7 separate regions of the Homo sapiens genome follow, and all the other regions are reported to be linked to region 1. The links are microRNA targets in miRTarBase. Many come from high-throughput screens and were not tested one by one. Region 1 holds a microRNA gene; each other region holds the end of a gene's coding sequence.

What was found. Region 1 holds the annotated microRNA hsa-miR-193b-3p (AACUGGCCCUCAAAGUCCCGCU, at 1,312-1,333, shown strand). A microRNA usually pairs through its seed, bases 2 to 8, with sites in the 3' UTR of a target mRNA and lowers its output. Matches are read on the target gene's strand: a 7mer-m8 pairs with bases 2 to 8, a 7mer-A1 pairs with bases 2 to 7 and ends in A, and an 8mer does both.
Region 2: the mRNA of MDH2 is a reported target of hsa-miR-193b-3p. Seed matches in the 3' UTR shown: 7mer-m8 at 3,202-3,208.
Region 3: miRTarBase lists DAZAP2 as a target of hsa-miR-193b-3p. The part of its 3' UTR that is shown has no 7-base or 8-base seed match.
Region 4: the mRNA of BORA is a reported target of hsa-miR-193b-3p. The part of its 3' UTR that is shown has no 7-base or 8-base seed match.
Region 5: the mRNA of CEP44 is a reported target of hsa-miR-193b-3p. Seed matches in the 3' UTR shown: 7mer-A1 at 1,372-1,378.
Region 6: the mRNA of EEFSEC is a reported target of hsa-miR-193b-3p. Seed matches in the 3' UTR shown: 7mer-A1 at 3,659-3,665 and 7mer-m8 at 3,620-3,626.
Region 7: miRTarBase lists TRMT2A as a target of hsa-miR-193b-3p. Seed matches in the 3' UTR shown: 7mer-m8 at 2,974-2,980.

Annotation. Positions count from the first base shown.
Region 1 is chr16:14,302,706-14,307,098 of GRCh38, forward strand. It overlaps MIR193B (microRNA 193b), which reads left to right and starts at 1,262; the gene lies at 1,262-1,344. The region is part of intron 1 of MIR193BHG (MIR193b-365a host gene); the gene reads left to right. RefSeq lists silencers at 94-254, 160-399, 1,353-1,402 and an enhancer at 3,765-4,393.
Region 2 is chr7:76,065,634-76,069,633 of GRCh38, reverse strand. MDH2 (malate dehydrogenase 2) reads right to left here. Exons shown (of 9, transcript NM_005918.4): 9 at 2,126-3,355. The coding sequence ends at 3,224. Among named protein-coding and RNA genes, the nearest start is that of MDH2, 20 kb to the right of the region's middle.
Region 3 is chr12:51,241,915-51,246,307 of GRCh38, forward strand. It overlaps DAZAP2 (DAZ associated protein 2), which reads left to right. Exons shown (of 4, transcript NM_014764.4): 4 at 416-2,019. The coding sequence ends at 544. It overlaps SMAGP (small cell adhesion glycoprotein), which reads right to left. Exons shown (of 4, transcript NM_001031628.2): 4 at 2,644-4,205. The coding sequence ends at 4,027. Among named protein-coding and RNA genes, the nearest start is that of DAZAP2, 5.3 kb to the left of the region's middle.
Region 4 is chr13:72,754,784-72,759,176 of GRCh38, forward strand. It overlaps BORA (BORA aurora kinase A activator), which reads left to right. Exons shown (of 12, transcript NM_024808.5): 12 at 368-1,413. The coding sequence ends at 433. It overlaps DIS3 (DIS3 exosome endoribonuclease and 3''-5'' exoribonuclease), which reads right to left. Exons shown (of 21, transcript NM_014953.5): 21 at 1-4,393. Among named protein-coding and RNA genes, the nearest start is that of DIS3, 25 kb to the right of the region's middle.
Region 5 is chr4:174,316,365-174,320,757 of GRCh38, reverse strand. It overlaps CEP44 (centrosomal protein 44), which reads right to left. Exons shown (of 12, transcript NM_001040157.3): 11 at 4,191-4,228; 12 at 430-3,423. The coding sequence ends at 3,375. Among named protein-coding and RNA genes, the nearest start is that of CEP44, 35 kb to the right of the region's middle.
Region 6 is chr3:128,407,802-128,412,194 of GRCh38, reverse strand. It overlaps EEFSEC (eukaryotic elongation factor, selenocysteine-tRNA specific), which reads right to left. Exons shown (of 7, transcript NM_021937.5): 7 at 3,549-4,126. The coding sequence ends at 3,936. Among named protein-coding and RNA genes, the nearest start is that of DNAJB8-AS1, 54 kb to the left of the region's middle. RefSeq lists a cis regulatory region at 408-593 and enhancers at 2,250-2,898, 4,080-4,393.
Region 7 is chr22:20,108,957-20,113,162 of GRCh38, forward strand. TRMT2A (tRNA methyltransferase 2A) reads right to left here. Exons shown (of 12, transcript NM_022727.6): 10 at 4,162-4,206; 11 at 3,955-4,051; 12 at 2,919-3,838. The coding sequence ends at 3,607. DGCR8 (DGCR8 microprocessor complex subunit) reads left to right here. Exons shown (of 14, transcript NM_022720.7): 13 at 1-47; 14 at 1,069-2,916. The coding sequence ends at 1,152. Among named protein-coding and RNA genes, the nearest start is that of MIR6816, 3.7 kb to the right of the region's middle. RefSeq lists an enhancer at 3,022-3,521.

The sequences.
Region 1 (4,393 bases):
ACTCGGCGCGAGACGCTTGTCTGGGCTGCGATTGCCGCCGCTGCCGCCACCCCGGCTCCCCCTCGGACCCCTCCCCCGCTCCCCAGAGGGGCGTGTGAAGCCGGGAGGTAGGAAGGGGGCGAGGCCGCCCCCAGCCTCCCTAGTGCCTGGGCTTGGAAATTGACGAGGCGGTGGAGCGTCCGCGTCCCCGCCCCCACCCCGGAAAGCCCGCTCGGGAAACTGACTCGCTGCGTGACCCCGATCTCAATGCCGCGCGCGGAGCAGGCCGGCCGCGCCCGCCGCTCCACGTGCGCCCGAGCCCCGCTGGCATGGGCGGCGGCGCCTGCGGGGGCCGGGCCCCGGGGATCCCGGACTAGCCGGGAACCACCGTCCCCAGAGAGTTACCGCCGCCCCCTAAAGTTGTCAGCTCCCTCCCCCCGAGAAGCAGGCAGCCCTGGCGCGTTGGCTTTAGCTTCTGCAGGACGGGGGCAAAAAAACTAGGTTCCGGGGTGCGGAGCGGGGTGTCTGTGCCCGAGACAACACCAAGTTAGGAAAAAGAAGTTAGAAAAAAAAAGAAAAAGGCATTTTGATTTGGGGGTGGGGGGAGTGGCGTTTCTGGTTTCTCTTTGCTTCCAATCCCCACCAAGCGGAGCGTTGGAATGCGCCGCTTATGTCCTCTGAGGACACATCCATATTTATAATTTATTTTTAGGAGAAGTTGTGAAAAAGGGAGGGGGGTTAAAATGAGGAGAAAAGGTGCGTGGGGGAGTGGCCTTTCCAGAACCTAGAGGCTAATTAAGCTATTAAAATGGAAATCATTTCCCCCAACTTGGGCGCGCAGCAAATTTGACTTTAATGAGAGACGATTAAGGACACAAATAACCAAACTTTATTTAGCTGGAGATGGGGTGGGGGGAACTGTACGAGGCACCTCGGACACCCGATTTATCCGCTGCTAAGGGACGTTTGGGGCACCCCTCGTGTTGTCCGGGAAGCTTTTAGGCCTGTTTGCTGGGCGAGATTGGTGATTGCTCCGGGAGGGAAGAGACACCCCGGGATCAAGCGATCCTCTTGCCCTCAGCCATGGTGTGGCAAATGTCCCCTCCTCCCACAGCGACCCCCTGGCATTTTGGTGAGATGAACCGCCGCCCTGAGGGAACACCCAGTAACGATTCCTTCAGTGATCCCGGTTCTCCAAACTCTTGCCTCAAAGGCGGCCTGCCCCGGTGCTGTCAGCCGTGAATGGGGACTCACTTCTTGGGAAAAGAGGCTTTTGGAGGCTGTGGTCTCAGAATCGGGGTTTTGAGGGCGAGATGAGTTTATGTTTTATCCAACTGGCCCTCAAAGTCCCGCTTTTGGGGTCATTCTGGACAGCGAGGGACTCAGGCCCCGGCAGTCTCGGGAGGGTGAGGGCAGAGAGCTACCACCCCCAGGGAGCGCGTCCAAAACCCGGCTGGCGGGGGGGCGGGGAAAGAGGGGGAGGTTTGCTACTTTCCATAAAACTAAAAGGTCCCTTCGAGGGCGGTATTCTTATAAGTGTGTGTTCTCAGTTTGCCGAACCTACTGTGTTTTCCAAGGGCTTCTCTCCTTGGGAGGCCGAAAAACGATACAAGGAGGAGAAAGTACATTCCCCCTGACCACCCCCACAGTGGTTTAAGGGACAGTATTGGATTGGAAAGGAATTAGTAGGATGTCAATTGTGGCAAAGTGTTTGAAGCCCCCAAATAAGGCGCTCCTGAAATGATGAATTGTAACGACATTAGATTTGTCTTTACGTTTGCTAAATTAGGAGAAACCAGCTGTTTGCTTCCACCTGGAATTGCAACATTTCTTTGCAACTCTTTGCTGTTGAAGGCGTTCTTTTTGTTCTGTTTTGTTTTGTTTGTTTGTTTGTTTGTTTTTTGGGGACAGAATCTCGCTCTGTCCAGGCTCTGACCAGGCTGGAGTGCAGTGGCGCGATCTTGGCTCACTGCAACCTCTGCTTCCCGGGTTCAGGCGATTCTCCTGCCTCAGCCTCCCGAGTAGCTGGGATTACAGGCGCCCGCCACCACGCCCGGCTAATTTTTTTGTATTTTTAGTAGAGACGGGGTTTCACCGTGTTAGCCAGGATGGTCTCGATCTCCTGACCTCGTGATCCGCCCACCTCAGCCTCCCAAAGTGCTGGGATTACAGGCATGAGCCACTGCACCCAGCCAGGCGTTTTATAGAAGGCTGGATAATACGTTCAGGGGAAGTCTCTAAAGCAAGGGTAGTGTGTATAAATCCCCGTCGCAGAACATTAACCTTCAGTTGTGTGTACACACACACACACACACACCCTATATAGTTGTAACCTATATAGACTTTCACACATCCTAAGTTATTTGCAAGTCTAGATTTAAATTAAGTCTACATAGCAGGGAATAGAAAAGTGAGCTGTACCTGGAAAAAACCTTTGAACACAGCGTTCTTGATACAAGATTTAGGATTTGAAAGACATGGCACATGTACACACAGATGACATTTGTGCTGCCTTGGCAAAAACAGTTCTTTACTTCCAGAGTTCTTTCTCTTTAGTATGGGACACGATGAAACAGCACAATTTTCAGGAGTCCACAATTCCAGCGAGGCGCGTGGATGGGAAATTGTCACGTTGTGAATTGTGTTTGTGCTTTGCTAAATCGCCACCCGGAGCTGACTGTCAAATCCTATTTGCTTTGCTAAATAAGGATATCTCATCAAATTAGCCTTTAATGATACTTCTACAAATAGGGTGTTTTACATGAATTAACGAGGCCGGAACACTGACTGTTTCTCCAAGATACTGAGCTATAATGGAGGCGACGAAGCCGAATGTTAAAATTACTGAATTGTTAAGTGTGCAAAATCAGACAGAATTTAGTGCTAAATGTGAAACAATTTCTGCTTTAATGGTGAGCATTCGCAACAGCACAAGCATTACTTATATTCAGCCGTCTGAAACTGTGCATGTAATTATGAATACATTTAACAAACTTTAACCCCCCTCTGAGTCTGGAAACAGTCTAGTATGGTGAAGAGATTATAAATCAGCATTTTGCAGTGAGAAGTCATCATTAATTCAGCAAAGAATCACAGCTTCTTTTCAGATCCTTCCCACCACCCTCCTACACACCCCCCTCAACCAATAAGGAAAAAAAAAATTCAGCATGGAACTGCTGGATACACTGAATATATTTTGGCTTTTCTCTTTTTGCCTCTGTGTGAGAAACTTCATTAAGCAGTTGCTGTTCCCTCCCCACCCCCGCTAACCCCCAAAGAAGTGTGGATTTAAGAAAAAAAAAAACAAAAAACAAGCAACTTTGAATTTTGTTCTTAGCAATCCCCAAGCCATAGCTGATCTCAGAGAGGCAAAAAAGATGTTTCAATAGAAAAGAATACGGTATGGCCAGGAGTAAAATATTTAGAGGTGGTTCTGCAATGAATATGATACTTCCTTAAAAATAAAATATATGTTGGTGATTCAAACCAATGAAAGTTGGAAAAGTCCCTCCAAGGGAACACTCTCTCTGTTTCCCTTCCCAGCAACCCCCCAACTTAACGTTATGAACAGAAAGATGGAAATTCTTGCCAGATCAACTATAGCCTCCTAACGATCAGCTCACCCTCCTTTAATTTTGATTGTGGAGCAAATACAGCTATTTTAGCCATGAGGATAAAAATGAGTGCAGTGAAAAGTTAAGGCAAACTTGGTACTTAAAATCACTCACCAGAATAAAGTGCGTGTACAAACAAAACATTGCTGATCAGTTACTTTAAGCAGGCATTTTCTTTCTCGCCTGAGCACCCCAAACACAGAAAAATGTAGAGTTCTTTTTGCTTCTTGTATCTGGAGCAGGTGAAAATAAACCCTGACGCTCACAAACATGATATAAACAACATACTTTTCAGGCCTAGTAGCCAAGCCGACTTTTCAGGGAAAGAGATGGACGTTGAAAGAATTTAGGAGTGGACTTGGGGTTCCCTCCATCACCCCATGCCCAGCTGACCCCTTCTGCCCTTCTCATGACCTCTTTTCAAAGCAGCCAGTGTTCAGATGCTGCCTTTCCAGCGTCCCCAGTTGTAGGGGACATATGCACATATTTACCAAGCTTTAAAATAAGGTTTCTGATTTTATATCATCCGTCTGAGTTTACGGAACCACAAAGCAAACTTCTTTCTCCGTGTCCCTGAAATGCTGCCCCACTGCAGCAAAGGGGACTTCGCCTGGGCAGGGAGAGGAGTTAGTGGCTGGTTGCGCCTAAGGTTAGCTGTGCGGTGTGGTATGACAGTTTTCTCAGAGATGTGCAAAAATCTAGGCTCTCTTGCTGGAATCGTGTGAGATCAGTGCTGGGCCTGTTGGCATTGGCATTTGTGCCCAAGACAGCCCAGACCTCTGCCAGCCGAGGCCCAGATG
Region 2 (4,000 bases), not on the chromosome of region 1:
GACCCCCCTGCCAACCCGTCCTTGGTGGAGTGTGAGCAGCCTTGGCCACCGTGTCACCATCCTGCTCAGCTCCTGGGACGCCCTGTTCCTGCCATCCACAAGCTCTTCAGCCTGTCTGCTCCGGCAGCTGCCTATGACGCCCATCCCACCCTCCCTGCTGGTTGAAATCCTGCCCAGCCTGCAGAGCCAGAGCGTATGCCATCTCCTCCTCCTCCTTTTCCCTCCTCCTAGAGATCTTGATAGGGGAAGTCCTCCTTGATGCTCTGCCAAGACATGAAGTAACCTTGCCCTCCTCTGGAGTCCCACGGTACTTCCTCTGTGTTTGTCTTGTGGATTCTCAGTACCTGACTCGTCTTTAGCCCTGGAAGGCAGGAGCTAGAGGGTGAATAGCCCAGGGACGGCCAGTATCTCCAGGCCCCTTCATCATCATCTGAAAGAATCTAGGATATTCTACATTCCAGGTCCTCCCTTTAGGATGCTAGAGCTGAATTTCTGAGATGGAACCAGAAATGCGCTTTTTTTTTTTTTTTTTTTTTTTTTTGGGACAGGTCTCTCTCTGTCTCCCAGGCTGGAGTGTAGTGGCACAGTCACAGCTCACAGCAACCTCAAGCTCCTGGGCTCAAGCAGTCCTCCCACCTTAGTGGGAGTATCCTGAGTGAACTCTCTGGGAGGTTCTTAAGGGGTAGCCCCTGGTTTATGGAGAGAGGTAGTGACCACCCTCAACCAAGACACAACCTGACTTAGCTTGAGTCCCAGGTCCTGTCAGGGTTGTTGCAAGGATCCCATAAAATGGCAAATGTACCCCAAATACAGCCAGCATAGTGCTCTGCATATAGAACCACCAGGAGGAAACAATGCTAAAGTACCACGCTCAGAGTTCTGCTCTCTACAGCAGTGAAAAACAAAAACACCGAATTATCCACCCTCAAGGTTATCCAGCTGTGAAAAGAATGGCAGGGCACAGTGGCTCATGCGTGTAATCCCAACACTTTGGGAGGCCGAGGTGGGAGGATTGATTGAGGCCAGGAGGACCAGCCTGGGCAACAGAGCAAGTCCTCCCACCCTGATATCTTGTTTTTTTTTTTTTTTTTGAGACGGAGTCTGGCTCTGTCGCCCAGGCTGGAGTGCAGTGGTGCAATCTTGGCTCACTGCAAGCTTCGCCCCCCAGGTTCATGCCATTCTCCTGCCTCAGCCTCCTGAGGAGGTGGGACTATAGGCACCCGCCACCACGCCCAGCTAATTTTTTGTATTTTTAGTAGAGAAGGGGTTTCACCGTGTTAGCCAGGATGGTCTCGATCTCCTGACCTCGTGATCTGCCTGCCTCGGCCTCCCAAAGTGCTGGGATTACAGGCGTGAGCCACCGCGCCCGGTCACCCCCACCCCGGTCTCTACAAAAAATTATAAAATTAGCCGGGCGTGGTGGCAGGCACCCATAGTCCCAGCTACTGGGGAGGCTGAGGTGGGAGGATCGCTTGAGCCCAGGGGTTGGAGGCTGCAGTGAGCCATGATCACACCACTGCACTCCAGCCTGTGCGACAGAGACCCTGTCTCTAAAGAAAAATTTAGAAAAGTGACAAGGGCAAATACACACAGTGAAAGAAGTGGGGGGCAGCTCATCTCCATAAATGGCCATCAGAGTCAGGTCTCCCGCAGCCACACCCTTGTGTGGTTCCTGCCCATGTCATTGGGGGCCTTGTAACTTACTCTAACCTAGAGAATGCAGCGCAAGCGAAGCTGGGCCAGTTCTCAGCCCAAGCCTTAGAGCCTGGCAGCTTCTGCTTTTGCTTGTGGGAACTGAGTCATTCAACAAACATATGGACCTTGCTGTAGATGCGTTGTGAAGAATGAGAGGCCCAAGACCTCGGGGAAAAGGCCAGCTGTCCGGGCATCTCCCAAACACCAGCCTCGCGTGCTCCAGTCCAGCCAAGCCTCCAGTGACTGCAGTGGGAGCTGTGGGCATGTAACCACCCAGCTGAGTCCTGTCAACCCCCAGCGTCGGGAGATAGGAACAGAAATAGCCTAAAAGCCACCAGAGTGGAGAGGGCTGGGATTGTTACAGTAGCAGATAACCTGCAGAGCAGGCTTCATTCTCTCAACCTATGAAATATGCAAGAGAGGACAAGTATTACCAGTAGTTCCTTTCCCGCTTTATTTTTTAGCTGCTTTTTGGGTTTTATACAATGAACATGTATTAATTGTAGAAGAAAACGATGTCATCCTTTATGATAAAATCCATTTCCATTTTAGCTTTTTTAAAAAAACAAAAAGCTGTTGTGGACAGATGAACATCCAAGTACTGGGCACACCTCCAGCCCTCCCTCTTCCACTGAAGGCCATTGCCTATTCCTAGAAAGTTCTTTCCCAGGTATGCAGCTTTCAGTTTCCACTTCAGAGGCCACAGTGTCTGGGGAACGGACTGCCCCCAATACTAAAGGGAGTCAAATCTCTTTAATTCCGCACTCCTCAGTACAACAAGAAGTCCCTTCTTTAGGCCACTGATGGAAACCTGGAACCCCCTTTTGATGGCAGCATGGCGTCCTAGGCCTTGACACAGCGGCTGGGGTTTGGGCTGTCCCAAACCGCACACCCCAACCCTGGTCTACCCACAGTTCTGGCTATGGGCTGTCTCTGCCACTGAACATCAGGGTTCGGTCAGAAGATGAAATCCCAAGGGGGACAGAGGTCAGTAGAGGAAGCTCAATGAGAAAGGTGCTGTTTGCTCAGCCAGAAAACAGCTGCCTGGCATTCGCCGCTGAACTATGAACCCGTGGGGGTGAACTACCCCCAGGAGGAATCAGGCCTGGGCGATGCAAGGGTGCCAACAGGAGGGGCGGGAGGAGCATGTACGGGTAAACTGAATACTGTGTCCAATTCCATAAATTAACAATTTAGACTTTCTTGAAGCTACTGATGAAAGCGTCACGCTTCAGTCTAACAGTTAAACATCATCTAATTCTGATTGGTAATGAAGAGGTAGCAGACACTCTAAAGTTGGCTCTCACAGGGAAGAAAGCACAGCATTTACAGAAGGGACCTTGAAAAATAAAATCAAGGACGGCTTTTATTGATGCGCCCACAGAGCCACCCACAATTTGGAAGGCATGATGATGTCAATACAGTAATCATCACCAAAGCAAATTAAAATACAAAGTTTATCTGCAACGGCTTTGCAGTGACATGATGCCTTCATAAATTAAGGAAACTGGCCACCCGTCACAGCGGCTCACTTCAGGGTCTTCACGAAATCTTCCCCCTTCTTGATGGAGGCCTTCAGCTCGGGGATGGCATCCGAGATCATCTTCTCCTCAAAAGAGGAGACTTTGCCGATGCCCAGGTTCTTCTCGATGCCCTTTTTCTGAGGGAGATGGGAACATGTTAAAATGAAGTTTCCAGGAAAGTGCTTGTTAGAGAAACCCCGACCTGTCGCTCCATCAGCCCTGCCGAGGAGTCTCTCTACACATGCGGGTTCTGGGTGCCTTGCTGGGGACGCCTTGCTGAGCAGGTGGGTGGGACTGAGCTGCGGTCAGGAGTGCGAGGCTCAGAGCCAGAGGGTGCCAGGCAGGGGTCCCAGCACTGTGATTGTCTAGGCAGGTACCCTGGACAATGACTGACCTTCCAAATGTGTTTCCTTAGCTATAAAACAAGCACCATCCACCTTCGTGAACACGAGGACAATGCGACAAGCACCTGGACGCCAGGAACTCAATCATCAGGAACACTTCACCGTATTCTCCCCAACAGAGCCTGTTTCTGGGTTCTTGTCTCTCCCCGCAGGTTGGTAAAGGACTGAAAACATTGTCACAGTCACCTGAATCAGGTGTCACTAAGTAGGTAAATGTCTGACATTGGCAAAAACAGGCATCTCTGCCACCGTCTCACCTGCAGAAACTGAGCACAGTTTGTGTGGCAACAGCCTCAGTCCTCACCTCAACTCAATTCCCTCCTACTGCTTCCCCTGGCTCAAGGGCCTATGAGAACCGGGTGCGTCTCACCTGCAGGC
Region 3 (4,393 bases), not on the chromosome of region 1:
CTATCTCAAAAAAATTAAAAAAAAAAAAAATTAAAAATTAAAAACTATGTAGGGACCATGTGGGATTCATACATGGACTGGCACCCTGTCCCTGTTTTGGGAATGTGAGTAGGACAGTGGTTCTCTACCCTCAAAATGACTGTTGGTCTGGTCTGTTCATGTTCAGAAGGTAGCCATAGGCTTCATCTTAGAGCTGGAACCCTTTGAATGAGTGGTAGGCTCCCTTTCCTGTTTGTATCTTTGGGTTCACATAAAGTATAGACCTACTTTAGAACTCAAATTGGTGGCGGAACTAGCTCCTTAAAACGCAGCTGGTTAGCACATTGCCTCATCCTAACAGGCCTCTGCTTCCCCTATGTCCCCTTCGCTTATATTAGCTGCCCTGTGCCCATTCTATCATGTCATTTCCTTTCAGCCTCCACCTCCTGGATGCCCTCCCAATGCTGCTCAGCTTGCAGTCATGCAGGGAGCCAACGTCCTCGTAACTCAGCGGAAGGGGAACTTCTTCATGGGTGGTTCAGATGGTGGCTACACCATCTGGTGAGGAACCAAGGCCACCTCTGTGCCGGGAAAGACATCACATACCTTCAGCACTTCTCACAATGTAACTGCTTTAGTCATATTAACCTGAAGTTGCAGTTTAGACACATGTTGTTGGGGTGTCTTTCTGGTGCCCAAACTTTCAGGCACTTTTCAAATTTAATAAGGAACCATGTAATGGTAGCAGTACCTCCCTAAAGCATTTTGAGGTAGGGGAGGTATCCATTCATAAAATGAATGTGGGTGAAGCCGCCCTAAGGATTTTCCTTTAATTTCTCTGGAGTAATACTGTACCATACTGGTCTTTGCTTTTAGTAATAAAACATCAAATTAGGTTTGGAGGGAACTTTGATCTTCCTAAGAATTAAAGTTGCCAAATTATTCTGATTGGTCTTTAATCTCCTTTAAGTCTTTGATATATATTACTTGTTATAAATGGAACGCATTAGTTGTCTGCCTTTTCCTTTCCATCCCTTGCCCCACCCATCCCATCTCCAACCCTAGTCTTCCATTTCCTCCCGCCAGTCTCCATTGAATCAATGGTGCAGGACAGAAAGCCAGTCAGACTAATTTCCTTCTTTCCTCGCACTTCTCCCCACTCGTCATCTTTTAACTAGTGTTTCACAAGGATCCTCTGAAACCCTCTCTGTGCCCCAAGTACAGATGCCATTACTTCTGCTTTCGTATCTCCTCAGGCAAAAGTGGAGGGTGCCTTATGGGCCCTCCTCATAGGTTGTCTCTGCATACACGAACCTAACCCAAATTTGCTTTGGTGCCAGAAAAACTGAGCTATGTTTGAACAAAGATGTCGTGCAAACTGTACTGTGAACAACAGTTGGTTTAAAATATGAGGGGCAAGGAGGAGGATGCATTTCAAAAGCTTGATTGATGTGTTCAGAGCTAAATTAAGAGGAGTTTTCAGATCAAAAACTGGTTACCATTTTTTGTCAGAGTGTCTGATGCGGCCACTCATTCGGCTCCCCAGAATTCCTAGACTGGGTTAATAGGGTCATATTGTGAATGTCTCACTACAAAATGACTTGAGTCCAGTGAAATCTCATTAGGGTTTAAGAATATTTCAGGGATCCTTAATGTTTTGATTTTTGTTTTCTGAAATTGGATTTTATTTTATTTTATCTTATAATTTCAGTTCATCTAAATTGTGTGTTCTGTACATGTGATGTTTGACTGTACCATTGACTGTTATGGAAGTTCAGCGTTGTATGTCTCTCTCTACACTGTGGTGCACTTAACTTGTGGAATTTTTATACTAAAAATGTAGAATAAAGACTATTTTGAAGATTTGAATAAAGTGATGAAGTTGCATTACACCTCACTGCAAGGATTCTTTACTTAGCTTGTTTTTAGATTTCTTCTATATATATTTTATTTATATCCCATCTAGAATTCAGCTAGGTGCTGCTGCTGCTCTGTTTCCTTTGATGACGCTTTGAAATAAAGGCAGGAGTACAAGCCTAAGACTTGATCATTTCATGAATTCCATTCCAGATGTTCAACTTTTCATCATTTTACTCCAACCTCTTACAAATTTTGGAATTTCGGACCTAAACTTAGAAATGAGGGAACTATTGATTCTCCTAACTTGCTCTAAAGTTTGGCTTGAAGAAAAGGTTCTGGTATAGCAATTTGTATACGTTGAGGATGACCTTTAGTTTCTCCAATGTTCTATGTGGAGAAATACTGAAAACTCATAGAATCTAGGTTGCCAAGATAGATTCCTCAGCTCTTTTATTTATTTTTTGAGACAGGGTCTCCCTCTGTCACCCGGGCTGGAGTGCAGTGGCAGTGTCTGCTCACTGCAACCTCCACCTCCCGGGTTCAAGTGATTCTCCTGTCTCAGCCTCCTGAGTAGCTGGGATTACAGGCACCTGCTACAACACCTGGTTCATTTCTGTACTTTTAGTAGAGACGGCTTCACTGCGTTGGCCACGCTGGTCTCAAACTCCTGACCTCAAGTGATCTGTCTGCCTCAGCCTCCCAAAGTATTGGGATAACAGGCAGTGAGTCACTGCACCCAGCCAGATTCCTCAGCTCTTGATCTTAACTTGGTTGGGTTTGAGCTTGGACAACAGAGGCAATACATTAAGACTTCAAAGGAGATCTAGCTTTAATTCCAAAGTGAACAATATCTGATGAGCTAATAATTTATACCAAAATGTGCCTTTTAAACACAACTTATCTTGAGACTAAAATCCAAGAAGCTTCTTGGCTTGATTCTGAGGATACACTGGGAAAGGTGGTAGGTTGATTTTTTCTGGTTCCTTCTGTATATATGTAGAAGGGATTCTGGGAAATTCTGGCCCTTGCCAGGATGGAGGCTTGAACCAACTCATCTCCCAGGGTACTTTTTTTTTTTTTTTTTTTTTTGAGACGGAGTCTCACTCTGTTGCCCAGGCTGGAGTATAGTGGTGCAATCTCAGCTCACTGCAAGCTCCGCCTCCTGGGTTCAAGCCATTCTCCTGCCTCAGCCTCCCAAGCAGCTGGGACTATGGGCGCCCGCCACCACGCCCAGCTATTTTTTTTATATATTTTTAGTAGAGACGGGGTTTCACCGTGTTAGCCAGGATGGTCTCGATCTCCTAACCTTGTGATCCGCCTGCCTCGGCCTCCCAAAGTGCTGGGATCACAGGCGTGAGCCACCGAACCCGGCCCTCCCAGGGTATGTTTCTAATGATGTTCCCCTGGAACAAGCTTTCCTGCACCATCTTTGTCTCAAATCCCTGAGATAGTTCTGCAAACTTCTAGAACTTTCCTAGGGTTCTTATTGCTTGGAAGAGAACATATGTAAAGGCGTTAAATAGGGAAAAGAAAATGTCAAAAATGTTTAAGCAAAAATAAGTCAAAATGTAGTTACTTCTTGCACATGAGAATCTGATTTCTGTAGCAATGAAAATTTTTAATTTGAATAAAAATCACGTAAGCATGAGGTTGTTGGGGAACACGGAAAGGAAGGGCTCAGATTAGGGGGTGTAGCACATTTATCAGGAGGTAAGATCTCCATAGTCTCCTACCCCTCCTGGCCTGGCCTTTTACTGTGGTATCCAGCCTCTGGGAAGACCTTGTATGGACAGTATCTCCACTGGGGCTATCACTAGGTGACCAGGTAGGGGACAGAGTAGAGCAGCCAATGACCTTAACTCAAAATCTTTTCTCTCCCTTCAACCTGTGAAAAAAGATGACTGGGCACATACTCAGATGTCCCCTGGCATAGCCACATCTTGTTGGCCAGTCACAAACACCAGCTCTAGTAAGAGGGCCTGGTTAAAGATATCATAAACAGCTTTCTCCATGTCCCTGGTCCCTGGAGTCAGTGATGTCGGCATTTGGGACTGCGACCTGGCTGGAGCTTGGATTTGCCCACATCAATCAATGCTTCTCCCTGGCTTCAGAGAAAACTTTCCCATAATAAGCAGTCAACGTGTTAGCGATGGAGCCAGGAATAAGCTCCTTGGGGCCTGGGAGTCATTAGATGAAATATTCCTCTTTCTCGCTGCCCTTGGCCAAGTCACTCTCCATCTGGACGATGGCACTGGGCTCACCTTCTGTAGGTTCATAGGTGACGTAGCTGCCTTTGTTCTTGTACAGGTAAAAGAAGATCAAGATCACGACCGAGAGCAGGGTGAGGAAGACAACGGTGATAACAACTTGGAAAGGAGAGGGAAAATGTAGAGATGTTTCAGGATTGAGGATGTCTCAGTAGTTCCTGGAGTCATCTGATTTAGTCACTGTTTTCGTAAAGATCCTCTTGTTTTCATTAACTAGTGTCCACTTCCATCCAAACCCATGTTCCCCCACCAACCCCAATTTCCATGGCACATAATAGCTGGAGTCT
Region 4 (4,393 bases), not on the chromosome of region 1:
CAGCTCACTGTAGCCTTCACCTCCCAGACTCAAGCAGTCTTACCACCTCAGCCTCCTGAGTAGCTAGGGCTACAGGCATGTGCCACCACACCCAGCTTTTTAAAATTTTTGGTAGAGACAGGGTCTCACTATGTTGCCAGGGCTAGTCCCAAACTCCTGGGCTCGTGCGATCCTCCCACCTTGGCCTCTCAAAGTGTTGGGATGCTTTTTGATGCAGAATATTGATTTATAAAATACTGTATCTTTACTGTCCCTTCAGAGTTCAGCTAAAGAAACGTGCTTTTAGGTTTTAAAAACAGTCCCGATAATTGCATCCTCCAGTGGTCCTACTTAAACTGAAAACAAGGTATTGTCTTCTTTTTCACAGCAAGACCACACAACACAGAGGTGTTGGATGAAAACAGCAAGCCCTTTTCAATGCAGCAGTCCATAGAATGCCTCTGTCAGAATCAAAGACTAAGCTTAAGAGTTCCTCGCATATATCGTTGTGCACAGGATCAACATGATGGTGACTGGGAAAAAATTACTTCAAGTAACATGCTTAGCTTTCCCTCCTTAATGTGAAAAATCAAGGGCTTACTGACATAGGAACAACAGAAATGCTCCTGGAACTTCAAGTTGCTGAATTATAAGTTTATTTTTTATCAATAAATATTTTTATACTTACATTGAGTGATGTGTTTAACAACAAATTGTGACAGAGCTGAGTGCTCCTATCTTACAGGGTCAATGAACTACTTATTAAGCCTTACTGGTAGCACTGAATTTAGCAGTTCTGAGAACATGTGAAACTATGTTAAAACTGAAGGCACTATATATTTTTACATAAAAGCTTGAACATACAGATGAATTATAACCTATGTGAAGAAATCTTAGATATAAAACTAACTTTTCAAAGATACAAAAGAAATTAAACAGGTTTCCTGAAATTTTAGTTCTTGGTCTGTTCACCTCTGTGGGGAAAATTCTTAGTTCCAGTGATAACTGTTCTAGTTACTACTTTTAAGTATGTAAATACTAGAAAGGTAGTACTAGTGACATCATCACGTGTATTGTTATCTATGGGGCAAATGTGTGGTGCCCAGAATAAAATATACCTCATGCCTAGGGTAGGGACATCCTTTCCAGCTCAAACGTGGGTAGGGATGTGGGAGAATAAGAATGTGGGAGAACCAAGAGAAAAAGTGGGGCTGGGAGAGTGGAGTTCCCGTAGGGCATAGGCCTGTGAAGTAACACTGGGGCAGATATGTATGTTATATACAACTATTTTTTTAAAAAACTTATATCCATGTTGGGAGTAGATGGGTATATAACAGTTTGGAAATACTATCTTTGGAGAATGTATTTTTGTATTTATAAATCAACTTTTAAAAACTGTCTCATTCAAAAGGGAATAAAGACCTGTGTTATCAATGTGTCATTTTCTTCTTTCCTCCATAACTGTACCTTGAAACCTTACTGCTGACCTGCAGAAAATGTGCCGCGTTATGTACCTGGCTCATCTTCAACACACTAACCATGAACACTAATAGCCATTAGGGGACATGGCTACAGATACTACATTGGAAAGTTGTCTTTAATCACACAGGTGTTAAACTCAATATAAATTTACCTAAAAACAATTGCTATACCTAAAAGGAGTTCTGGGTACTAAGGGTAGAAGCCTCACTGGCTACAGTTTTTTAATAGTACAAAAGTCAAGAAATAACACAATAGTGACTATAACCTGTATTCAAATCCCTACTCTGTCACTACTTGATCTGGGCTGATATGGTATGGCTCTGTGTCCTCACCCAAATCTAACCTTGAATTGTAGCAATCCCCACGTGTCAAGGGTGGGACCAGGTGGAGGTAACTGGATCATGGGGGCGGTTTCCTCCATGCTGTTCCTGTGATAGTGAGCCGGTCTCATGAGATCTGAAGGTTTTATAAGCGTCTGGCATTTCCACTGCTGGCAGTCATTTTCATCCTGCCGCCCTGTGAAAAAGGTGCCTGCTTCTCCTTTTTCTGCCATGATTGTGTAAGTGTCCTGAGGCCTCACCAGCAATGCGGAACTGAGTCCATTAAACCTCTTTCCTTTATAATAATTACCCAGTTTGGGGTATTTCTTCGTAGCAGTGTGAGAACAGACCATAAACCTCCATTTTCTCATCTGTTAAATGGAGATAACAGTCCTGGCTTAACAGGGCTTTTTGAGTTAAGTGATATATTCCACGTAACCTGCTTAGCATAAGAACTGGCACTAGAAACAGAACATTTTAGATTATGGAATAGAACTTAGGGGAAAATAGCAAAGTCTCTGATCATCTTGAACTACTCAATTGGGACTTATCCCTGAATTAAACCTTTCTAGTAGCTGAAGCACAAGAAAATAAACTTGGAAAGAAAAAACCTAAGGCCAGTCATGCACTGCCCTACTTCCCTTTCTTCTCTATTGCAGGTTAACTATGGCCTGTAGGCAGTTTTTCTTCTCTTTTTTTTTTTTTGAGACAGTCTTGTTCTGTCACCCAGGCTGGAGTGCAGTGGCGCGATCTTGGCTCACTGCAACCTCTGCCTCCCAGGTTCAAGCGATTCTCCTGCCTCAGCCTCCTGAGGTGGGATTAAAGGCACTTGCCACCACACCTGGCTAATTTTCTTTTCTTTTTTTTTTTTTTTTTTTGCGATGGAGTCTCACTCTCATCATCCAGGCTGAACTGCAGTGGTGCAATCTCGGCTCACTGCAACTTCCGCCTCCCAGGTTCAAGCGATTCTCCTGCCTCAGCCTCCCAAGTAGCTGGGATTACAGGCATCCGCCGTTACACCCAGCTAAGTTTTTGTATTTTTAGTAGAGACGGCGTTTTACCATGTTGGCCAGGCTGGTCTCAAACTCCTGACATCGAGTGATCCACCCGCCTCGTCCTCCCAAAATGCTAGGATTACAGGCATGAGCCACCGCACCTAGCCGGCAAACTTTTTTAAATGGTTGGCGGGGGTGGGGGAAATCAAATGAGTAATGTTTTGTGACACATCAAAATTATAATGATGTGCTGCATAACTTTTGGTCAACAATGGCCAAATATACGATGATGATCCCGTAAGATTACAATGGAGCTGAAAAATTCCTATTGCCTGGGGACACAGCCATGGTAACATCATAGTGAAATTACTTTATGTAGCCTAAGTATATAGTGTTTATAAAAGTCTACAGTAGTGCACAGTAATATCATGGCCTTCACATTCACTAACCACTTACTGACTCACCCAGAGCCAGCTTCCAGTCCTGCCAACTTGTTCATGGTAAATGTCCTAAATAGGTGTACCATTTTATATCTTATATATATCTATATATATATTTTTACTGTACCTTTTCTATGTTTAGATATGTTTAGATACACAAATACTTAGCACTGTGTTACAACCGCCTACAGTAATCAGTACAGTAATATGCCATACAGGTTTGTAGGTTAGGAGCAATAGGCTATCCCATATAGGATACCATAGGGTATACCATCTAGGTTTGTGTAACTACATCATGATTTTCACACAATGATGAAATTGCCAAGTGACATGTCTCAGAACATATCCCTGTCATTAAGTGACATATGACTATATATGAAACTTAACAAATCAGGCCTTGTTGAAACACAGTCATGTTGATTTGTTTACATATTGTATATGGCTCCTTACACACTATCAACGGCAGAGTTGTGTACTATAGTTGCAATACAGACCATAGCCAACAAAGTCTAAAATGTTCTAGCACTTCACAGAAAAGGTTTTTTGACTCCTACTCTACTGTTTCAGTGTCACTGACCCATTTTACCTGGACCAAAGACTACTCAAGTCTATTTTCCTCCAACTGACACAAGTTTCTGCCTCAGTGTATGGAGGTTTTCCTCAGTAATAGGAAACTGGAAAAATTAGTCAACATTTATTGAGTGCCTAAATGACTACCTATTTAGTATACCTGCTGATTTACTTGGCAGGCTTTTCTCACTATACTGCAAGCTCCTTGAAGGCAGAGATAATTTACTTGAGTGGAACCTGGCACAACGTAAGTGCTTTAGAAATTGAATAAGCCAAGTAAAATGTTTTAAGGCAACCCTATCCCAAAATATTCCTGAAGATATTAATTTAATCATTACTAATCTCTGTGATTAGCAAGGGAAGTAGTCAGTCTGGCACACCAAATTTTATTAATAATACTTATTTTAATCTGTTCCCTTTAGTATGTCTTTATACAGTTCCCCTCGTGTATATACACTGATATAACTACAATTTAAAAGCCACTAATTAATCTGTTTTTTATTTTGTAAGTAACAAGATATAGACATTTGAATGCCAATGTCTTATTCTGGAGAGACACTGGAGCTGAAGTTCAACAATGATCACACTTATTACCTGGCAATAAAAA
Region 5 (4,393 bases), not on the chromosome of region 1:
ACAAGCTGCCCCTTGGGCCTGTGTCAACTGACCTCTAGCCACACACACACACATACACACACACACACACACAGAGCACACTCAGTATGCTAGCCCTAGTGAATTTCTTTCAAATGCTCTTCCTTTCAAGCCTTTGTTTATGCTAGTCCTTTTGCGTAAACCATCTTCCCTGGCTATATTCTGTTCACTCTTTAGGACTTAAGATAAACATCACTTCCTTCCACGCTGATCAGTTTGATGCCTTCAGTTTCAAAGAAAGGAGACAAACCTGGGGACTGTTAAAAAGTAAAAATCAAAGTTACAATGTTATTTGAGCTCAAAAAGTGTTGTAGTTTATAAAATTGAGAAGGTTATATTAATTTTTATGCTTCCTGAAGAGTGTATCAATTATATAAAGTTATGAGTAATGAATGGCATGAAACAAAGTCCCAACGTTTTCAAGTTTTATTTTTAAAATATATTACAACATCACATTAAAAACAGTAGAGGAAAACAAGCAAACATGATAGAATTACTTTTTTCCAACTCAATAGTACTTAGCTTTACCTAGAATTTTCATACAGTTGATGCTAACTTCTTCTGAACCCTTTCTGACTAGTATTTTACCTTATGTATTCTTTATAGTATTTCCATATAATCTTTACCGAGACCTATTCAGAGCATAACATAGACAGGGCAGCACAAGCAACTGACACCTTTGTTGGTAGTACAGTGTTTTTTCAACCAGTTTATGAGAGAATGAAAAGAATGAAAGTGAAAATTTTACTTAACTTAGGGTTATGTAGCTCTAGGTAATCTCTTCAGAACTCCCCTGCTTCACCTTCTCAAGTTAATCAACAGTGGCTAGTTTATAACTAGAAACCACTTACCAAATTGCCTAAACAAGAAAACTTTTTAAAATAACAATTTGCTGATCTGTCCAATAACTCCAATAAAGTTGAATTTGCTTTATTTTTCCAAAAATTATGTTGTCTAGATAAAGACTCTTTGTAAGTGTAAATGTATGATATATTGAGTTGATTTTTAGTCCCTATTAGAGAGTTGTTAGACAAGTTATTAAAGTTTAAGAAAATTTGGATTCTAAATTTCCACCTGATAACATATATGAAATATTTTATATTTTCAATATATACTTACTTATATTTTGCACACTGTATATAAACTAGGAGATTAGAAATGTTTTAAGTCCCTTCTCTGTGTGTATATCTGCACTATATAAAGAAAAAAAGAAAGGGTAGAAAGAGACTTAACTTTTTTTCTATCTTCCATAAGAAAACTTCAAAAATGTTTCTTTTTAAAATTGAATTTTTCAAAAGGGAAAAAATATTATCCTGTTTGATGGGAAATCACTTGTTTTAACAAAAGGTAAAATACTGGCATGTTAACCACAAGGTGGTGCTATAATTCCATGCTGGTACTGATATTTTAGGAGTTAATCGATACAGAAGTTTTTTCCCTTATAACTATAACCTCTTAACCTCTTAATTTTTATAAATGTACTTCTCTCACAATTGAAAAAATTAAAGCTAACATGCTTCATTAATTCTGGAAATATTTACTGAAACTCTGTTAAATTCAAAATTGTATGTTTCTGTAGGCTACCATTTTAAAGTTCTGATGACCAACTGTTTATTAGAATACTAAAAATGTGGCCAAGCATGGTGACTCACCCATGGAATCTAGCACTTTGGGACATCCAGGTGGGCGAGTAGCTTTAGCTCACGAGTTTGAGAACAGACTGGGCAACATGGTGAAACCCTGTCTCTACAAAAATACAAAAATTAGCCAGGCATGACGGTACAGGCCTATAGTCCCAGCTACTCAGGAGGCTGAAGCACAAGAATCGCTTGAACTCGGTAGGCAGAAGGTGCAGTGAGCCGAGATCACGCCAGTGCACTCCAGCCTGGGCAATAGAGTGAGACCCTGTTTCAAAAAGAAAAAAAAAAAAAACAAAGGAATTCTAAAAATGTTTTCTTAAAAGTGATTTCTTACACTGTTTCAAATTCACAAACACAAAAAAAATTTAAGTGATTTCTACTCATATAACAATATTTTATATTTGACAGTGTAATATAGAATTATACATACATACCATAAATAGATGAATAAATAAAATATAATCAGATGGTCCATATAATATTAAAAAAAATACTAATTTTCCTTCCAAATAATGAAGTCAATTTTCTTGAGGATTTTCTGATTACTGGAACACTTTTATCTACAAGTTTAAAAAAAGATAATTCATATAGTAGTAATATTAAAAATAAATTTCATTTTTCCATTGATTTACCTTCAGCTAAGACTTTTCTCTCCAAAAAATGTGTAACTTTTCATCATTAAAAAAACAAAACACAACACCTCACTGTGTATCTTTTAACGGTGGCTAGAATGGCTACATTCTCTTTCTGTTACACTGGTCTTAAAAAGTGTTACGCCGGAGGCCAAGACAGGCAGATCACCTGAGGTCAGGAGTTTGAGACCAGCCTGACCAACACGGAGAAACCCTGTCTCTAATAAAAATACAAAATTAGCTGGGCATGGTGGTGCATGCCTATAATCCCAGCTACTCAGGAGGCTGAGGCACAAGAATCACTTGAACCCGGTAGGCAGAGGTTGCGGTGAGCCAAGATCGTGCTATTGCACTCCAGCCTGGGCAACAACAGCGAAACTCCATCCCCCCCTCCAAAAAAATTATACAATAGAGCATACTAAAATGTTCAACACATTTCTCATGGTGAACCTTGAGACCATAGTCCTCTTGGTCTAAACTTGAGGACCATAGTCCTCCAGCCTGTTTCCCAGTACAAAAGGAGAATCTTAACCTTAATTTCTCAGTGTTAATTGGAAAGGTATTGATGTTTTTGACCAAGCATGAAATAACTGCCTTTTTGTTTTATTTAATTTTCAATGAGCATTTTTAACTGTTCATTATAACTTATTCATCAGTACAGATGCCAAGATGGTATATATGAGAGCCTCCTGGGTATAATACACAAGTCCCATTTGGAATGTTTCCAACAGGATGTAAACCATAGTCCTCAAGCCTGTGCTTTAAAAAACATTACTTAGCACACTGCCAACAAATGTCAACACAGAAATACAGTGCTGTAATGACTTCACTCTGTAAGAGAAATATACTGGAACATGAGTTTTTCCTAAAAAAAAAAAAAGTGACACAAGGTAAAGCAGTATAATCATTGCTCAAAAATATTAAAAGAGTTATTCAATAATGAATGCAAAAATTCATATACCAAATGGAATCCAAATTGTCAAAAACTGCAGTATTGCAGTATATTAAAATTGTATAAAGAATTCTTAAAATATACAATATGTATAGTAACCAAAGTCCTAGAAAAAAGTTCATGTAGAAAATCCTACAAGTAGTGATTTGGACATTTCAGTAACTCTGCAGTTTCTTCAAACCTGAAATATAATAAATAATATATTAAGTAAATCAATAATTCATAATAAAGCATAGCATTTTAGTTGTTGAAATTATGCTTTTTAGCCTAAAATAAATTTGAATATTTTTCTTATCTATAAGTACAGTTACTATGAATAAACTTAAGTATGACCAGAGGGAAGACAAAGAGGAGTCGATTATGAGTCATATTCTTGAAGTGTAAGTTAAGTACTTTTTGCATTTCTAAATAATATTATAATTTTCTATAGTAGTAGGCTGCATAATCATCTTATATGCAATTTCATTTCATATTTCCTTTGAACTGCTCTTTAGAAAAATCACACCATTTGTACTAGACAAAAACATCATTTTTAGTATCTCATCAATAACTTGCCGAAAAACACCAGTGATATTTTCACAACACTGAAAATGTCTCCAAACCATCCATCTATATATATTATTTAATATTTTGATAAATCAGTTATCAAAAATAGATAATACTCTTGATTAGTTACCAACCAAAAATATCTTTGTATTCTCTCTGCAGTTAATTCCATTAACAATTCCAACAAGTTTTAAATCGCTTGTTGGAAACTAAAACAGTGACTCATCTCACAAACACATAACTGTAGGTGGATTTATTATCCAGTGGAGTCCTGAAGGAAATTCCACACCTGATTGAGAGACCTTTAAGGTTTGAAACACACATGCACATTCTATATATACTGTAATCCAATACAATTCCCTATAGAGAAATGAATTTCTGTTGCCCCTTTCTGTTACTTACATTTTTTTCATCCTTTCCATTTTCTGGATTGTTGTTTCCTTTAATTTAAAAAGCAACAAATTTAGATGATTTCTCAAAGTAAACCATCATCAAAGATGGACCGAGAATGTACAAAACACAGTTTGAAACATTGCATTAAGTACTGTTTACTTATGAAAGAATTTTGAGAGACTAAGATTCGCGTTTGCTATTTTTCTTGCTAG
Region 6 (4,393 bases), not on the chromosome of region 1:
CCACTAACCTGCATGCCCTTTGCCCATGGGGCAAACTAGCACTGGATACACTGGAACTGAGGCACATTTTACACATGGGGACACTGAGACATGAGGTTAGGGAACTTGCCACCACCCTGTGTACACTGGACTCGATCCTCCTTCACCCCACTCCCACACCCAAAGAGATACACACACTGACAAACACCGCAACCCTCCCAAAACACACACGGAGCACATGCAGACACGTCTGAGACATCGCGGATCCATGTGCACAGATGCACACCCAGACGTCAGCACAGGCTTGGAGATGCCTGGTGCACCAAAGCCCGTGTGCGCACATGCACATGCATGGCCAGGGCAGGAGGCCTGGGAGCACGGAAGCTGCCCCTTCTCCTGCCCCAGGCCCCCAGGGCTTCCCGTTTACGAGACGTTATCTATTGAAAATATATTAACCCAGAAGCCTGTTTCCATCAGAGTCTCGATTCCAGGGACATTTCCAGATAAGCCTTATCTCTTCGTTTGTGCATTAGCCCTGCTGGTCGGGGGCCTGCCAATCACCGCTGCCCCTCCTGCCCCAGCCCATGGCAGGATGTCGGTCCATGACCTCACTCCATGTGGGCAGGCAGGTGAGGGGGCCCAGGGCACTGCTGCCCCATGCCCCACCCCACCCATCAGCCCACAGAGGACCCCAGAGGGCACCTCTTTTCCAAGGACACGCCTGAAGCACTGGTGGGCAAGGGACTCTGGAAGAACCTGGAGCCTGGACTCAAACTCCAGCTCTATCTGGGGCAGCTGCAGGCAGCCAAGCCCTGCCCTGCCCACACCCCTGGGAAACCGGCATGCTGCTGCCACATCACTGCTGTGGGTAGATGAGCAGATTCGGTGAGTTTACCTGTGTCGGTGGCTGCAGTGAGCTTGGCCCACTGGAACCCTCTCCTACATAAAACACGCGGGCCTGGGGTTGCCCAAGGCATCCTGGGGGACGGGGGAGCCAGGGAAGGGGACGTGCATGCCCACACCTTGGCCTCAGCCAGAAGCGGGTGCTGGCACCAGCTCCTGCCCACCGTCCCGGCTAGGCTGCACCTTCAAAGGCTGCGCGCCCTGGCCCGACCCCACTAATGGACGCTCGGGTTTCCACCGATGCCGGGCCTGATAGAGGCCTCTCCTGGGGCAGTCGGCTGGGCGTTTTCAGGCCACACAGAGCAGGTCCGCCTCATTACACACTCAGGGCGCTCAGAGGCTCCTGGGAGTCGCCCTGGGCTGCCCCTCCTCCCTTCTGTGCCTCTGTGCCTCAGTTCCTCCACCCGAGCCCCCTCCTTCCCGGGACTTTGAGGAGCACGGTCTTCAGACCAGTAGGGAGGTGAGAGGTGGGGTGGAGGTGGACGCCTGCACAGAGTTCCTGGAAAAACGGCTTATTTGGGGCTGGTGTCACTTCCTGAGGGGTTCTGGGCCTTTTGCCTCTCAGTGGGAGATGTGTGGGGCCCACCCTAGGGCCGCAGGTAATGTGGGGTCAGCAGTGTGCCTGGCAAGTCTCCCACCCCCAGGGCAGCCCTCTGGCATGGCTGCTTTTCTTCTTCCATTTTATACATGGGGACACTGAGGCATGAGGTTAGGGAACTTGCCCAAGCTCACACCGCAGGCAGGGAGAGGCCTGAATCTGTGCCCTGGTGGCGGCAGCCACATTCGCCCTGTGTGCTCATCTTTCCTCCACACCTGATCTGGCCCCAGAGCCAGCTCCCATGGCTCCCATGGAAGCTCCCATGGACAGCTTCCATGGAACCCCATGCTTGGCACAGTGGTTCCACTGGGTCACATCACCCCTCATTTAGAAAGGGACAGTGACACACCCAAGGTCACCCTGCCCATGCAGGCCAGGACCTGGGGCTGAGCTCAGAGCTTTCTGTCCCAATGTGCAGGGACTCTGAGGGGGCTGGGGAGGGAGCGGTCAGGGAGGGTGTGGCCTGGCTCCCAGCTCAGCCCCACACTGAGGAGGAGGGAGGTTTCCTCGCCTAAGAAGTGAGTCCTTGGAGCTGGGTTCGGACCCAGTGCTGGCCCTCACCAGCAGCTCCCAGATCTGTGCTGGGAGGTGACCAGCCTGGACAGCACTGGCAAGTGCTCAGAGGGGCCTCTCCTGCCCCCAGGGACTGACAGGCTGGGGGCTGTGAGCCCAGCTCGGTGCTGACTGAAGCCCTCCTGGAGGTCTGCTCCCTTCTTGGGCTGCCCTCCCCTGGGGGACCAGCAGGCTAGCAGGGAGCCTGGTGTGGGCTCAAAGCTGCTGCCAGTTTCCTGGGCGGAGTGGCCTCAGTGAAGTGGCACTGCCTTCCTGGTGAAACAGTCTGCAGGGCCAGGTAGGGTGAGGAGGCCGTGGGGCACAGCACACAGTGGGGTCGGGGCACAGCACACAGTGGGGTCAGGCCCCAGGGAGAGGGGCCACTGCAGTCCCAGGAAGTGTCTGCTCAGGCAGCGGCAGTAGAGGGGGAGTCGGCTCCTAGGCAGAGGGCTGTCCTGATTCACAGTGCAGACAAGCCGCCCTGGCACCCGCAGCCTGCAGCAGCCGCGGAGGCCACGCTCACCGGGGCCACACTCTCTCTCACGTTCCTCCAGGGCCAATCCCCTCAGGGGACTGAACTGGGAACCCCACTTCCCCATGGCTCTCAGCTGTTGCCCTTGACTGCTGCTCCAGCCCTGCTGCCTGGGTCTGGGCCAAGGTTGACGAAGGGTGGCTGGGCCAGTCGCCATCGCTGGTATCCTTGCAGCTCGGGGGCTTTGCTCTGCTGTTGGTGTATTTAATTAACTGCCTGTTCCCCACCCACCACGTGCACACGGGACACACACACACACACACACACACGGCTCTGGGGCTTAACAGGCCCAAGTCATTTGATCGAAACCTGCCCCTGTTAATATTTTTAATGCCATTTGCAAATTAAAGCATAATGCACCGATTACTGGGATAAAAGGGAGGCCTCTGCGTCTGTCTGGAGACCAAATAAAGGAACGTTTGAACATCTGTTCATCCTGCAAATGTCTCTAAAAGCTTTGATTTCCCCTCAGTCTGTTGACTCCACCATTCACCCCTTCCTGAGTATCCCACAGCCTGGGGCTACAAGGCAGGGTGGTCTGTGGGTGCAGGGGATGGCAGATGGCTCTGCAGGGTGCCCTCACCATGCTAGCCTCCACTTTCTGGGAAGTATGTGGTTCTCAAACTTGAGGGCAGGGGCTGAGGGACTCCTCGTGTTGGGGTGGAGGAACAAGCCTCCACCTGCTCTGCCTGATGCTCTGGCCAGGCACCCTGCTATTCCCCAACTTCCCTGTGGGTACCTTCCCTGGACCCAGCTGCCCAGAGAATCCCCATTCTCCCTGAAGGCCCAGAGCGCCCCAGGAGCCACCTAGTGGGGTTGAGAAGCGCAGACACTCTGCAGACTCCCACAGCCTACAGACTCTGAGTTTGGGTCCCTTCCCTGGCCCCGACCTGGGCAGGAACTCTTGGGATTTCTGAGATTCCCCTTGGAACACAGCTGGGGAGGGCGGCGGACCTAGTGAAGTCACAGAGAGAGAGACACCAGTAGAGTGGGCTGGGGCCACGGGACATTTATTTGTAGCCATCAAGTGCCTGCCCACCTGGGGGAGGGTTGAGACTGGCCTGCAGGTGGCCAACAGATGGGGCAGTGGAAGATACTGGCTACCAGCCCTCTGCCCATGGCCCTTTCCTAGTTGGGCTGGGGGCTGTCCTGGGTGGGAGTGTGCAGGGGCTGGAGGAGAGACCCTCCTGGCCCCAGCAACCCATCCCCCTCAGCTCCTCACCAGGGCTCAGCACCAAGCTTGGGGGTGGGGGCTGCTGCTGCAGGACTGCAGGGAGAGACTGGGAGAGGCTGAGGCGTGGCTGGTTGGGATTTGGCACAGCAGCCTGGACTGGGCTGGGCAAGGAGGCCCTGGGGGAGGTCACCGGACACTCAGGGAGACTGAACCATGCGCTTGTGGGTGTCGAAGACATAACGCTTGAAAGTCAGGCTGAGCACCACATGCTGTGAGGGCTCGCTCCGCTCGGCGCTCTCCTCCTGCCTGGTGGCCTCCCCACGGCCAGCCCGGGCCCGCTTCTTGAGGGCGGGTGTCAGGATCTTCTTGGACTCGGGGCTGAGGCCACCTGCAAGGCACAGAAGAGAGCCTGTCACTCTGCCGTACCCCAAGCACCCGTGGGCTCCCTGCCCGCGCACCTGCTGCCTAGACTCACCCCTCTTCTGCCTCCCTCCCTAGCCAATCAGCCCTGAGGCCTGTGGTCCATTCTGACATTTTGGTCCCTCCGGCACCCATCTGATAGGTGTACAGCAGGGCACTGTGCCTCTTGGGGCCTCAGCTCACCACCCCCGTGCTCAGGCCCTGGAGGGACTGCTGCTCTGTGCCGAGTGGTCCA
Region 7 (4,206 bases), not on the chromosome of region 1:
TCCTCAGCAAGCTCCAAGAGGAGATGAAGAGGCTAGCTGAGGAAAGGGTGAGTGCCACCCTAGCGGGAGGGCTGCCGGGCCACGGCCATTCCTGTGGCACCTGTGGAGGGACAGCAGACCCCAGGACCCGTGCCTGAGCTGACACCTTGGAAATGCTTGGATCCTCCTTCCAAAATCAGATACAGGCTTTTCTTTGAGCTTCGACATGTGTGATAGTTTTATAAATCACTTCAGTTTTGGTTCTGTTGTTAGAGAGCTGGCAGGCCAGCCTGTTGGTGGACCATGAAGGTCACAGTCTTGGTGGGCCACCTGAGTCCCATGTCCTCCCTGGGTGTTTGGAGGTAGGTCAGTGCACCTGCCAGGGTTGAATCTGTAGGGCTTGGTCCTGATGAAGCCTCCTAAAGCCACCTTGGGAACCCCACTCAAAGAGGGGCCTGTCAGGCTGGCAGTGGTGTCTTCTGTCTTCAGGCATCGTCTGCCTGGCCACGGCGTGACCTGCCCACCTGGGCCTTCTGGGTGGGAGCTTTCTTAAGTGTGGCAGTCCCCTGGCCTGGGTGAGAGCCCCAGGAGGTATCTGCTGCCGCCCAGGCCAGCAGGTCCCTTGCTGCTCCCTGGGGTGGGGCTTGGCCTCCTGGAGCCAGTGGGACTGCCTGGTTTGCCCCTGGTCGGAAGAGGGGCTGTGGGGCTCAAGGGCAGCAGGTGCAGGACATAGTGCTCCTGGCTGGGCCTGGGGCAAGCAAAAGCTGGGCAAGGGAGGAACACCCAATGGGGAGGCCTGGCCTGTCCCTGTAACTGCACCCAAAATTCTTCACTTCTTGGTACATGTCCTGATTGCCAGGGAGGCTGCACATGTTGTACTCTGATGGCAATGCAGGGGGCCTCTGCAATCTCAGGCTGGCCTGCCCCAGGCCTTCCCTGCTCCTCCTAGCCTGGCATCACAAGCACTGGTGCCGTTGGGGCTCCAGGGCCTCCTGGCATGATCTGCTGGGCTCTCCCTCCACCTTGTGTCTTCCCGAGCCTCTGCCAAGCCCACCTCACTGGTACCCCTGACCTTTGTTGTTCTTTCAGGAGGAGACTCGAAAGAAGCCCAAGATGTCCATTGTGGCGTCCGCCCAGCCTGGCGGTGAGCCCCTGTGCACCGTGGACGTGTGAGGGAGGTGGCACGGGCCAGGGCGCGGGGGCCGCCAGCCGCACTTCTGAGGAGACCAGCAGTCATGCATCGTGCACCACAGTGTCAGGCCTCCAACCCACGCTCCTTCCCTGTGGCCAACCTGTGGGCCCGGCCTTAGGGTGGAGGCTTTAGTGTACAGGGACAGCCATGGCCACACAGCACACATGTGGAGCAGCGGCTCTCCCTGGAAAGCTCCAGGCCTGAATGGATGGACTCAGCGACTGCACCAGTGGCAGCTGGTGACTGTGGACAGTGGTGGACCCTGCTTCTGTGCACCTGCTGCAGGCTCTTTTTATGAAGGCTTTCATGAATTTTAGTATGTAATACGCACTGACGACACATGATGCTTGGATGACAGATGAGAGGGGATGGCTGAGTCCTGTGGCTGGCCCGTGATGCCAGGTGGCCCATGTGCCCAGGGCGCCTGCAGGGCTGCTACAGGGACCTGGTCAGGAGGTGCACATGGTGCCCTGCCCTCACCCACCCTCTGTGTTTCCCCTTCTTTGAAAAGGTAGAAGAGAAAGGAATATTTTAAACCTTTTTGGCTTAAACAGAATTTTAGCATCAGAACTAGCTTTCTGGGATTGGAGGCAAACCATCAAGGTGGTCCCTCTCCAGTCTGGACACGATGCCAGCAAGGATGACGTCCTGCCACCTCCTGGAGTTACCCTGGCCTCCTAGGGTCCCTTTTTCTGATGAAGTCTTAATTCCCTAAAAGCGCCTCTTTGGACACTGAGGCCCTCTCTGCCTTTCCTGGCCTCCGGCAACAGTTTTTTACAAAGATTTTTTGCAGTCGAGTCCATATGTCCACCCATTGATTTTTAAAGCTTTTGTGATATTTTAGCATTTTGAAAGACTTTCACAGTGAGAGTAGAAGGTAGATTTGGAATCATGCATTTTAGCAAGTGGACTTGTTGAAACAGGAAGCAAGGGCCTTCAGTGTAGCCCATTCTTGATCCAGAGCTGTTGCCTGTGACAGCGGTTTCTCTGGATGTCAAAGGCAGCTGCCTGGTGCCCAGCTTGCTTCTCGACTGGTGGCCCCTATGGGTGGGTGTGCGATGGAAATGTGTTCCTGCCGGAGTCTGAGGCACCAGGGTGTGCTCAAAGGCTGGCCCTGGTGGTGGACTGGCACCTGTGCAGAGTGCCGTGTGCTTGTGGTGCGCCATCTGAAGCAAGAGTCCAGCGTTCTGCCGTGTCTGTCCCCCACCATGCCCCCTACAGGCGGTACTGATGGCGCTTTTTTTTTTTTTTCTGTCAGGAAAACAATGTTGGCCTGTGGGCCGCCCACAACATATCCTTCCCTCACTACCTGTGTGACCAAGGTTGGCTTCTGTTGACCTTTAAAAAAGAAACCCTCAACTCAAATTGCTATAATTAGACACTTGCTTCTGTCTTGCCTCCTGTCTGCAGCTGTGAATAGTCATTTGACTGTGACTGTTGCCCTTAGCCAGCCAGATGCGCCTGTGAACCAAAGCTTCGTGCACATGTGTTCCCCTAAAGGTTGGGGAGCCTCGCTGTGTCTTGCTGTTCCCAGGCACCACCACAGCAGGTGCTGCCATACTCTTGTGGTCTCTGTGCGCCCCCCCCCCCCCCCCACCCGTCTGCCAAGCATGGGTATGAATCGTGCACACAGCCATGCTTCAAGGCCGGGGCAGGGGAGCCTGTGCTGATGCCATCCAGGGCACTGGGCTGTGCCTGGAAGGCGAGCCTTGATTGTCTGAACACATAAAGCAAACTGTCCAGAAGGGAATGGCTGATGTCTTTATTCTGAGGGTGAGAGGCTGGCACCCTGTGGACCCTTGACTGGCCAGATCCCCTCCTGGGGCCTCCCTGCAGGCTGGACCCTGCCTTTGTAACAGCTGAGCAGCACCCCAGCATGGCCCCTTCCTTGGTTGATGCCCTCTCTGCTGGGCTGAGGGCCAGGCTGGCCACAGAGGGGCCAACTCTGCCCAGTGTTCTCCACCCCATGCCCCCAGCTGGTGCAGTTCCCAGACCTCTCTCTGCCTCTCCTCAAGTTTAAGTATCAAATCGAACATTCTTTTTTAAAGTAAGCTCTGCCCTGACTCCCCCAGCCATGCAGAGAGGCTTGCAGAGCTGCCTAGGCCTAGTTTGGCCCTTTCCCTGGCACCCAGGCCCTGTGTTCAGACCCCTGGCTCTCATCACAGAAACACCCTTTGTTGAGCAGTTGTTTATTCTGGCCCTCACAGCCTTGGCTAGTCCACAAAGGCCCTGGGGATGGGCAACAGGCTACAGGAACCCACCTGTCTTCCTGGTCAGGGCCCCTGGCCCCTAGCAGCAGGCCAATCCTGGTGGGGCACAGGGTTCTGTGCCCTTTGGCTGCCTACCTCTGAATATCCTGGCCAGCAAGCCATGCCTTCCCCGCCCCTGGGGCCCTGGGAGCCCTTCAGCTCCTGTCCCCATAATGGGTCCTGGGCCTAGGATGAGGGGAAGGTCCCAGTTTCTTGTAGGGTGTTATCTGGGGGTCCTGGTGTGGGTTGAGCTGGAGGGCTGTGGGGCCCCAAGACCCCTGTGCCATTGGGGTGCTCCACCCTCTCAAACAGGATGAGCATCTCACAGTGCGGGGTCTGCGGGAACAGGTCCACTGCCACAGCCTTGACCGGCCGGAAGGGAATGCCCTTCACCCGGTTAGATGGGGCTCTGCAGAGGCTGTGGGGGGAAAAGGGGGGCGCTAAGGTCAGCCGATAGGCTAATCAGGGGCTCCTGTGGGAGCTGGGGGCTTGGTAGCAGGCCTAGCCCCCACCCAGGCCCCTGCAGACACTCACTCCACAAAGTTGCCCATGGCTGCCCGGGGGTTGCATGAGACGTACAGCAGCCGCCTGAGGTTCTTAGCTCTCCGGATGGCCAGGATCACCTTGGAATCTGAGGAGGCAAACACCAGCTGGGTCCCCACAGCCAGAGAGTGCATAACATGGTGAGCCACCCCATGTGTCCTCGTTCCCGTGCCACCTCCTTAAGCAAAAGCCACTCACGCAAGCCAGCACGGGGTGGGTCCAGGATGGCCACGAGGTGCTGGG